Regions from separate parts of the Homo sapiens genome. Here region 2 is reported to be linked to region 1. Evidence: microRNA targets listed by miRTarBase, many of them from high-throughput screens and not tested one by one. Region 1 holds a microRNA gene; the other region holds the end of a gene's coding sequence.

What was found. The annotated mature microRNA hsa-miR-654-5p reads UGGUGGGCCGCAGAACAUGUGC and lies in region 1 at 1,986-2,007, shown strand. An mRNA with a match to its seed (bases 2 to 7 or 8) in the 3' UTR can be bound and repressed. Matches are read on the target gene's strand: a 7mer-m8 pairs with bases 2 to 8, a 7mer-A1 pairs with bases 2 to 7 and ends in A, and an 8mer does both.
Region 2: miRTarBase lists CCSAP as a target of hsa-miR-654-5p. Seed matches in the 3' UTR shown: 7mer-m8 at 2,832-2,838.

The regions. Positions count from the first base shown.
Region 1 is chr14:101,038,249-101,042,644 of GRCh38, forward strand. MIR654 (microRNA 654) reads left to right here and starts at 1,971; the gene lies at 1,971-2,051. It overlaps MIR376C (microRNA 376c), which reads left to right and starts at 1,442; the gene lies at 1,442-1,507. MIR376A2 (microRNA 376a-2) reads left to right here and starts at 1,821; the gene lies at 1,821-1,900. MIR376B (microRNA 376b) reads left to right here and starts at 2,188; the gene lies at 2,188-2,287. It also overlaps MIR376A1 and MIR300.
Region 2 is chr1:229,321,399-229,325,794 of GRCh38, forward strand. It overlaps CCSAP (centriole, cilia and spindle associated protein), which reads right to left. Exons shown (of 4, transcript NM_145257.5): 4 at 1-4,013. The coding sequence ends at 3,837. Among named protein-coding and RNA genes, the nearest start is that of CCSAP, 19 kb to the right of the region's middle.

The sequences.
Region 1 (4,396 bases):
TGGTGGTATTGGTGGTGGTGGTGGTGGTGGTGGTACTGATGGTGGTGGTGGTGGTGGTGGTGGTGGTGGTGGTGGTGGTGGTGGTACTGATGGTGGTGGTGGTGGTGGTGTTGGTGGTGGTGGTGTTGGTGGTGTTGGTGGTGGTGGTTGTGATGGTGGTGGTACTGGTGGTGTTGGTGGTGGTGGTGTTGGTGGTGGTGGTGTTGGTGGTGGTGGTTGTGATGGTGGTGGTGGTGGTGGTATTGGTGGTATTGGTGGTGGTGGTGGTGGTGGTGGTACTGATGGTGGTGGTGGTGTTGGTGGTGGTGGTGTTGGTGGTGGTGGTGGTGGTGGTGGTGGTACTGGTGGTGGTGGTGGTGGTGGTGTTGGTGGTGGTGGTGTTGGTGGTGTTGGTGGTGGTGGTGGTGGTGGTGGTGGAGGGTGGTGGTGGTAGGGGCTGGTGAGCATCATGTTTTGCTACCTCTCTCAGTTGTATTTAAAGAGACATTGTTTTTGACCTGTTTGCCTATTCCTCAGTCTGTCACACCAACATGACCAGTCCTGCCGATTGAAACTTTCTGGACACAAGCTTCAGTCTCTGGAAGATTCTTGGGTGTCCTTCTCCCTCCAAGGTATGTGAAGGATGCTCCAGCCCACAGTTACATGACATTGGTCATTAGGTGCCTTGGGAGGGCTTCATGGAGGCGATGTGACTTTAGGAACCTGACAGGCTTATTTTCTTTTTGTTTTTGATATTTTTCGAATTCAAAGCATAGAATCCCTACTTTGCCTGCTTTACTTGTGGCAAATTTTTGATGTACATTCACTTTTTTTTTTTTTTTTTTTCAGAATTAAATGCTACTTTGGAAACGCTCTTGACCATGAAGCCTCCATTAGGGAAGAGACATTAGGGTTACCCCCACCCAGACGAGTGACAGCAGGGCAGACCCCAAACTTACGTTTGCCTGCATAGGAGTTCCATCTCTGGATGTGAAGAGGCCAGGGGTGGGCCCTGCGCTTCCCACGTGGGACTCGCAAAGTGCTCACCTGCTTCTGTTACCTTCTGTCTTTCATGAATCATGTTTGCGTTTGTGCTCTCCAGGGCTGTTCCCACTTTTCCCATCTAAAAGGTGGATGTTCCTTCTATGCTTACAGGATTTATGGTGAATCATAGAGGAAAATCCGCATTTTCAGTATCTAAGGCTGCTTTTAAAACATTTCTGAACATTTCTGAGAGGAAGGTTAGCTCCCTCCCCCATGCGGAGAGTGATGGAAGGTGAATCCCAGAACCTAAGCTCTTGTTAGCAAGGTCTGTCCTGGGACATGCGTCCTCCGCAGGGCCCATGTCACTGCCGCTAGCCCGGGAGGCCCCTGCCGACTGCACCTATCCTGTGCTGTCTTTAATTTTGATAGATTGTGCTTAGGTTCATGCTTTCCAGGACTCAATCCTTCTTTGGTATTTAAAAGGTGGATATTCCTTCTATGTTTATGTTATTTATGGTTAAACATAGAGGAAATTCCACGTTTTCAGTATCAAATGCTGCTTGGAAACATTCCTGGACTGAAACCACCATCAGGGAAGAGACAATAAAGTCCCCCCCCCCACTCCAGGGTAAGTGGAAAGTCGGTGGACCTCAGAACATGTGCTGAATTCGTGCCATATGTCTGCGGACCACCCACCCGCCTTGAGGAGACCCCTCTCGCAAGCTGCCCGCTCGGCCAAGCGGCTGGGCTCCGTCGTCATTTTCTCCATGAGGCCGAATGCTCTCCTCTGTGCTATGTTACTTTTGTGTTTGATGGATTGTACTTAGGTTCGTGCTTTCCGGGATGAAACCTTCTTTGGTATTTAAAAGGTAGATTTTCCTTCTATGGTTACGTGTTTGATGGTTAATCATAGAGGAAAATCCACGTTTTCAGTATCAAATGCTGCCTTGGGATCATGGCTGGACTGAAGCCACCATCAGGGACGTGAGGTGGGGCTGAGCCCTCCAGGGTAAGTGGAAAGATGGTGGGCCGCAGAACATGTGCTGAGTTCGTGCCATATGTCTGCTGACCATCACCTTTAGAAGCCCCCTTTCGCTGAGGAGCCAGCTTGGTGCACAGGCTGTGGTGTGTTGTCACAGCTATGCTACGGGACTGAAAACGGTTGCTTTACTGTCTTGCTTCCATTTTCCATGAACTGTGTTCAGATTTGTCCTTTCCAGAGCCCAGTCCTTCTTTGGTATTTAAAACGTGGATATTCCTTCTATGTTTACGTGATTCCTGGTTAATCATAGAGGAAAATCCATGTTTTCAGTATCAAATGCTGCTTTGGAAATGTTTCTGGAAGAGACCGTAGGGCCTGAGTAGGTGCAAAGATGGTAGGCCGCACGTCGTATCTGAATGAACGGGGTATGCCCGAGAACCATCTCGAGACGCCAACTTGGTGAAGATTAAATTGTGGGTCTCGTGGTGCCAGTTCTTCCCTGGAAGCTCGTCTGCCTCATGTGACTTTCTTTTCTGATGACTCAAGCACAGGTGCACGCTTTCCTGGATGGAATCCTTCTTTGGTATTTAAAAGGTAGATTCTCCTTCTATGAGTACATTATTTATGATTAATCATAGAGGAAAATCCACGTTTTCAGTATCAAATGCTGCTTTGAAAACCTCGGAGGACGTGAAGTCGCCATGGAAGAGGAGATGTTATCTGTACCCCTCCTGGGTACAGGACGGACAGACACAGAATTGTACTTTGTATGAAATACGCCGTCAGCTTCTCTGCTGTTTGCTCACTGCCCTTGGTGCACACATAATGTGTTGTTACAAGGCTGTGTTCTCAGTATTGCCTCATTGACCTTGAATGAAGTTTGTTCTCTGTATGTTTACCATGATTGCAATGCATTTTCTGGAATGAACCTCTTTTACTGTGACTAGTTGTACCTTAGAGAATACCTGAGTGGGCTGTCAATTTCAGGAAGGGGCACTGCTTCAGGGGCTATGGAAGGAATAGATGTGTGATTCACCCACGGGCCTGCACTTCACACCTCGGTGTGCTGCTCTCACCATGCAGATCCCATCTGTGTCTCTAAGGCTTGCTCCTGGAGCTGGTGGCAACTTAGTCACAGAGGAAATGGCCTTCCTGTCACTGCCATCATTTGCTACTTGAAGAGAGGTAATCCTTCACGCATTTGCTTTACTTGCAATGATTATACAAGGGCAGACTCTCTCTGGGGAGCAAATCCTGCCTGGGAAGCCTTCTTGGGAACAAGGCTGACTCCAGCAACCTGTTAGATGGCCAGGATAGCCCTGGGGTGTGGATGGTTGACCACAGGGCATGTGCCTCTGTCTTGCTGTTTGTGACCTGGTTCTCTGACCCTCCTCATCTCATGCTTCCTTCCAAGAACTTTCTGGAAGAGATGCTGGCTTTGGAGATGATATAGGGTTTTCTCTTCAGACCACCTGTTCTGCCTAGCAAAAAGGGCCTACCTTGGCCGGGCACGGTGGCTCACGCTTGTAACCCCAGCCCTTTGGGAGGCTGAGACGGTGGATGGCTTAAGCCCAGGAGTTCGAAACTAGCGTGGGCAACTTGGCGAAACCCCATCTCTGCAAAAAATACAAAAATTAGCTGGGTGTCATGGTGTGCGCCTGTGGTCCCAGTACTTAGGAGGTTGAGGCTGGAGGATCACTTGAGCCCGGGAGTTGGGAGGTTGTAGTGAGCCAAGATTGTGCCACTGCACTTCAGCCTGGCTGACAGAGACCCCTGTCTCAACACAATAGGTTAAAAAAAAAAGAAAAGAACAAAGGGCCTCCCTTGATGGGCCCTACTTATCACAAAGCATCCATGGGCTGCTACTCCGGCAGGTCTGCCCAGCATGATGCCAGCCTCTGAGAAGAGGTCTCGTGGTCAGTGCATCTCCCAGATACATGAAAGAATGACCGTCAGCAAAGTCAATGTCTAATGTAGATGTGGGTCATCTGGTCTACCCACTCTCCATACCTAGCCCATCCTTGGAGTGACTTTTGGACCTCACTGTCCACTTGAGGGAAGGCCAGTCCACAGGAAGGAGGCCCCAGAGCACCCAGTGTGGCTACAGGACTTGCTGCTGGGACCTCTAAGCCCCACTGCTCTCTTAGTCCATTGGTGTCCTTTAGGGATTCTTGCCAATGGAAAGACCCTTGGATTCCTGGTGTTAGCATGTGTTTATTCAGAGAGAGTTGGCCCATGAGAATCTCATTTTCCTTTGACGAATCTTGCCCTAGATGAATACTTCTGAGTAACAACTAACTGCTCAGATGGCTTTCTGAATACAATGCCAAATTCAGGAGAAGGGACACTTGTCATAGTGCTGCTTTGTGATTTGCAAACGGAGTGCGTTGGATTTCTGTTTCTCTTTTTTCTTTAATGATGCATGTGACTGCATCTTCTAACCTCCCTTAG
Region 2 (4,396 bases), not on the chromosome of region 1:
CATAGGGTTTGATATTAAGCACACACTTGCACTGAATAACTCCATATCCACCCTATAGTACAAAAATTCATTTCAAATGCAAACGTTGTGCAATGACCAGGTCATATTTTTAAGATCACTCTTTAAAATATCATTTTACTGATCACAAAATTATATAATAAGGATCTTATATGGGTTAGGTATTAAGTTTGATACCAAAGCAACTATAGCATCAAGCTACATAAATATTAGCACCATTTTTTATCTAGTCCAGTGAAATGTAAAACTATCCATCAAACTGTTTTTTACCAAAGCAGTCAACAAGAAAAATTGTTTTACTTCTGATATATGCTTTGCTCCTCCTCCTCTTTGCTAGTAATACTTTTGAACACTTTAAAGAAAGTACAGTCGGCCCTCTGTATCCGTGAGTTCTGCATCCATGGATTCAACCAAATACAAATTGAAAATATTTGGGGGCAAAAAGGATGGTTTCACTTGTGCTGAACATGTACAGGCTTTTTTTTCCTTGTCATTATTCCCTAAACAATATAGTATAACAACTATTTACAGAGCATTTACATTGTATTAGGTATTTTAAGTAATCTAGAGATGATTTAAAGCATACAGGAGGATGTGTCTAGGATATATGCAAATACTACACCATTTTATAGAAGGGGTTTGAGTATCCATGGAGTTTGGCATCCTAAGGGAGGCCTGGAACCAATGCCCCATGGATACTGAGAGGCGACTGTACCATAACATTCCATTTACAAAGTGTGTGCCCAGAACAGCATTATCAACCTGAAAAAGGATAGTGGAAGACCCTACAGATTTTTTTTAACTTACGAATTGTGCAGAATTATCTTCTGGAAGTTATGGCTTCCAATAACAGCCATCTTGCTTGCTCTCGTTCTTACAATTTAGTCAGCTGAGTTCAAGTGACCCAAGTATAAATACCCTTCAAGTTGCTAGCAATTGATCTTCGATGAAACACAATGACAAAGATATTACATATGAAATGGTATAAATATGTGCCTCCTACCTAATACGCAAGTAAGATCACCTATAGCCTATTATACATTTATTCATTTTTAAAATGAATCTTTTGAAGATCCATTTATTCACATTTTTCCAAGTAAATAGAATATTAACTATAACTACTAACTATAATCTTTTAAAGATTCATTTTAAAAGTGAATAAATGTGCTTAGAAATTTTAGGGGGGAGAACACACATAACATACATATAACCAGAGGTGCCAAGTATTTTAACATCTCCTAACTAAGGGCAGTTAAAAGACAAAGAATCGATTCCTGTTCACTTCTCCTCCCGCGGACTTAATGTCCAGCAGAGTGCTAGACAATATTGCTTCAATATTCTATTACTTTAATATTAAAAGCAGTAACAAAATCAAAAAGCATATTTATGACATTGTTTTAATTAAGTTAAAATCAAAATTTTAAAAAGAGTTTTATGTAGCATTTATTTTAAATATCATTGGGTTCTCTGTTTCAGACTTTTTCAACATGAAAGGTAATTTTTAAACTGTCTCACTGTCTTGCAGGTTGTCCCAAGAATTAGGAACATGATTACAACCACATTCATTTCTAGAATGAAAAGAAAGAATTAGGACCATCAGACTGTTAACAACTATCAAATTTTCACAGGTTCAAAAGGTAATTGACACTCTTTAAAAAAGAAAGAAAAGAAACCCTAACCAACTAAGGACTTGGATGTAAGATGAAGGCTTACAATTCATACTGATTTATTAACCATTCATGCACTTTAAAAGCACTTTAAAAATCCCGTTCATTTGTCTTCCACTTAAAAAGAGGAAAAAATTGGCCAATATTTGCCTTCTACATTATATCTCTGTCTGGAGTTTTAAGTAGTAAGTACATTAAATATAAGTTTGTTTTCTAAACAAGAGAAAAGTCTGGCGGTTCAAAGTCTAGAGGAAGTCGGGTTTCTAAGGCAGTCCGTCAGTGTGGGGCCTGCACCACTCTCTAAGGCCGTCTTTCCTAGATTGTCAGCTGCAACACAAGCCTGAGCTGGATGACTAACACCGAACATGCAAGAAGCGACTTTAAAGGAACAGTTTTCACAATCAGCTAGCTACACCATCACAAATTGCCACATTAAGGTGATCTTTAGGTACCTGTGTCGTTTAAAGACTTTAATAATAGTTAATACCAAAATTCACCAGTTACTAGCAAGGCTGTTTTGGACAACATGTAAAATTTCCTCTTTTGAAATATACATCTCAATGATTAGGAGAGATCTGTAAGGAAACAAATTCACCTCAAAACTATGCAAATATTTAAAAAGTTTTTTTAAGCTCACAATACTTCAGTATGTGTTTTCAAAGCTTAAACAGTTATCATGTGTGAAGAGTTTATGGGGAATGAAAGCAATATGTTCTAAAAATTGACTATGGTTTTCCAAAGACCCAGAGAAAAATACTAAGGTAATACTCAGCCTCACGTCCACTCACACATCTTCGGGTGCCAAGCTGGCATAGGCAGAGCACCATTATCTCTTATAAGGAACTTAGCACATATCCTTCTAGCAGATTCTTGTCTCCACAGGATGGAGAAGACATCATTCATTTGATGGAAACCAGTGTTTGTTAAAACCATTTTTCTACCCCCAAAGCAAACATACTAAAGAGAAGGAGCACTATTTACATAAATTTGTGCCTACCCACACACCACCATTCTCTCCCATTAAAGTGTAGATAAGATCTACTGGCTAGGAATCAAAGAGTAACGTATTTCAACCTAAAGTTTGAATACTGTACATCATCAAGACTTTGTTATTGTTAAGTGCTATAAAGAAAAAGAGAAAGTAGGGGTGGGCAGTCTATCTAACAGGCATCTTCACACTGGTCCCCATCCCAGTGGAACAAGCAATGCCAATGTACCAAGTGCAATTCCAGATTGTAAGTTTGAAATGTCATTGCCAGCCATTACAGAAGAGGCAAAAGTCCACAGTGGGTGTATGCCAAAAGGTCAAGTGTGACAAGGGACTGAATCCACAGTATGTATTCTTTAAAAAAAAAAAAAAAGGCAATAAAAAAAGTGAGTCTTTGACTACTCAAAAGAAACTTTACTACTACTGTACACACATATTGTGTTGTGTGCACTTCGTCTATTGGAATGTACTTGAGCTATTAAACTATTAAATAATAACTGCCTAGATGATCACTGAAAGAGAAAAAGAGACCCTCGCCCAGCCCAGATAATTCTTAAATATCACAATCTACATAAAGATGCTGCTGAACTGAAATACAAATAAGTTAAAAATTTTCAGGAACTAGCAAAGTTCTACTTTCATTATACATGGAATCAGTAGTAGTGCTGACACTCATTTTTGACTTGATATTCTTTCACAAACAAAACGGCATATAAGGAAAACGAGTCTTATGCTGTAGGATGGAATGATCTTATAGCTATGGAATCTGGAAAGTTATTTAGAACAAGATGATAATAGGCTCTACCTAAGCTTATGAAAAGAATACTGAACTGTAAGCATCTGTTGCCATTTAAAGGCATTTGGTGTCAGTATCTTAAAAGATTAAGATGCTTTAAAACAAAAACCTTATAAGAATATCAAAGATTTAGGGAATTATCTTCATAAATAACCAAATGTCTATGGCTTCAACTGTCTGCCCTACTGCCGAGGTAGGTGACCAATATTCATCAAAATAAAACAATCTTTTACAAATTCCCTAAAAAAAACCTTGCATAATCAGTTGGTTTCTTAAACCTGTGTCCGTTTCTTTTGATGGTTTTTGTTTTGTTTTTCCTTTCAGTCATTTACACTTTTTAAAAGAGGCTGTCCACGCAAGTGTTTCTTTAAGCTCTTGCCGAATAGCACCTCATGTATTCTGTCATCCACGGGTTCTCTGAGGAGGAAGCCTTCATCTTTCTGTTCTTCTCCACATCCACAGAGTGAGCTCGCTGCCTTTGAGCAACCAGTTTCCTTTTTTCCACCTGTCTTCTGTTCTTGGCTCGTAATGCTGATTCATGAATCTAAAGAGAGTTCAAAATAAAGGATAGTAACTTAAGGGGCTATTATACTAATGTTCAACAGAGGTTGCAATGAAGCTGGCTACTGCCAGGTCAACTGCAGCAGGGCAGAGTCAAGCCCTGCCTCTCTATATAGTTCTTCTTTACATAAAACCTTCCACAGAAGAGCCATTCTCACTTGATGCTGTTCTCACTTGATTCATATCAGGGATAATGAAACTAAGCAACAGCAAATTAAATGTTAGACAGAAATGGTAAGCAACTAATTTGCATGTGCCTCTAGAGTTGGCTCTGGAAAACTGTCCGAACTGCTTAGCATTAAACATAAGTATTTAATTAACGACTTATAAACAGCTCATAAAAAGCAGGGAAAATAAAAGAACTTT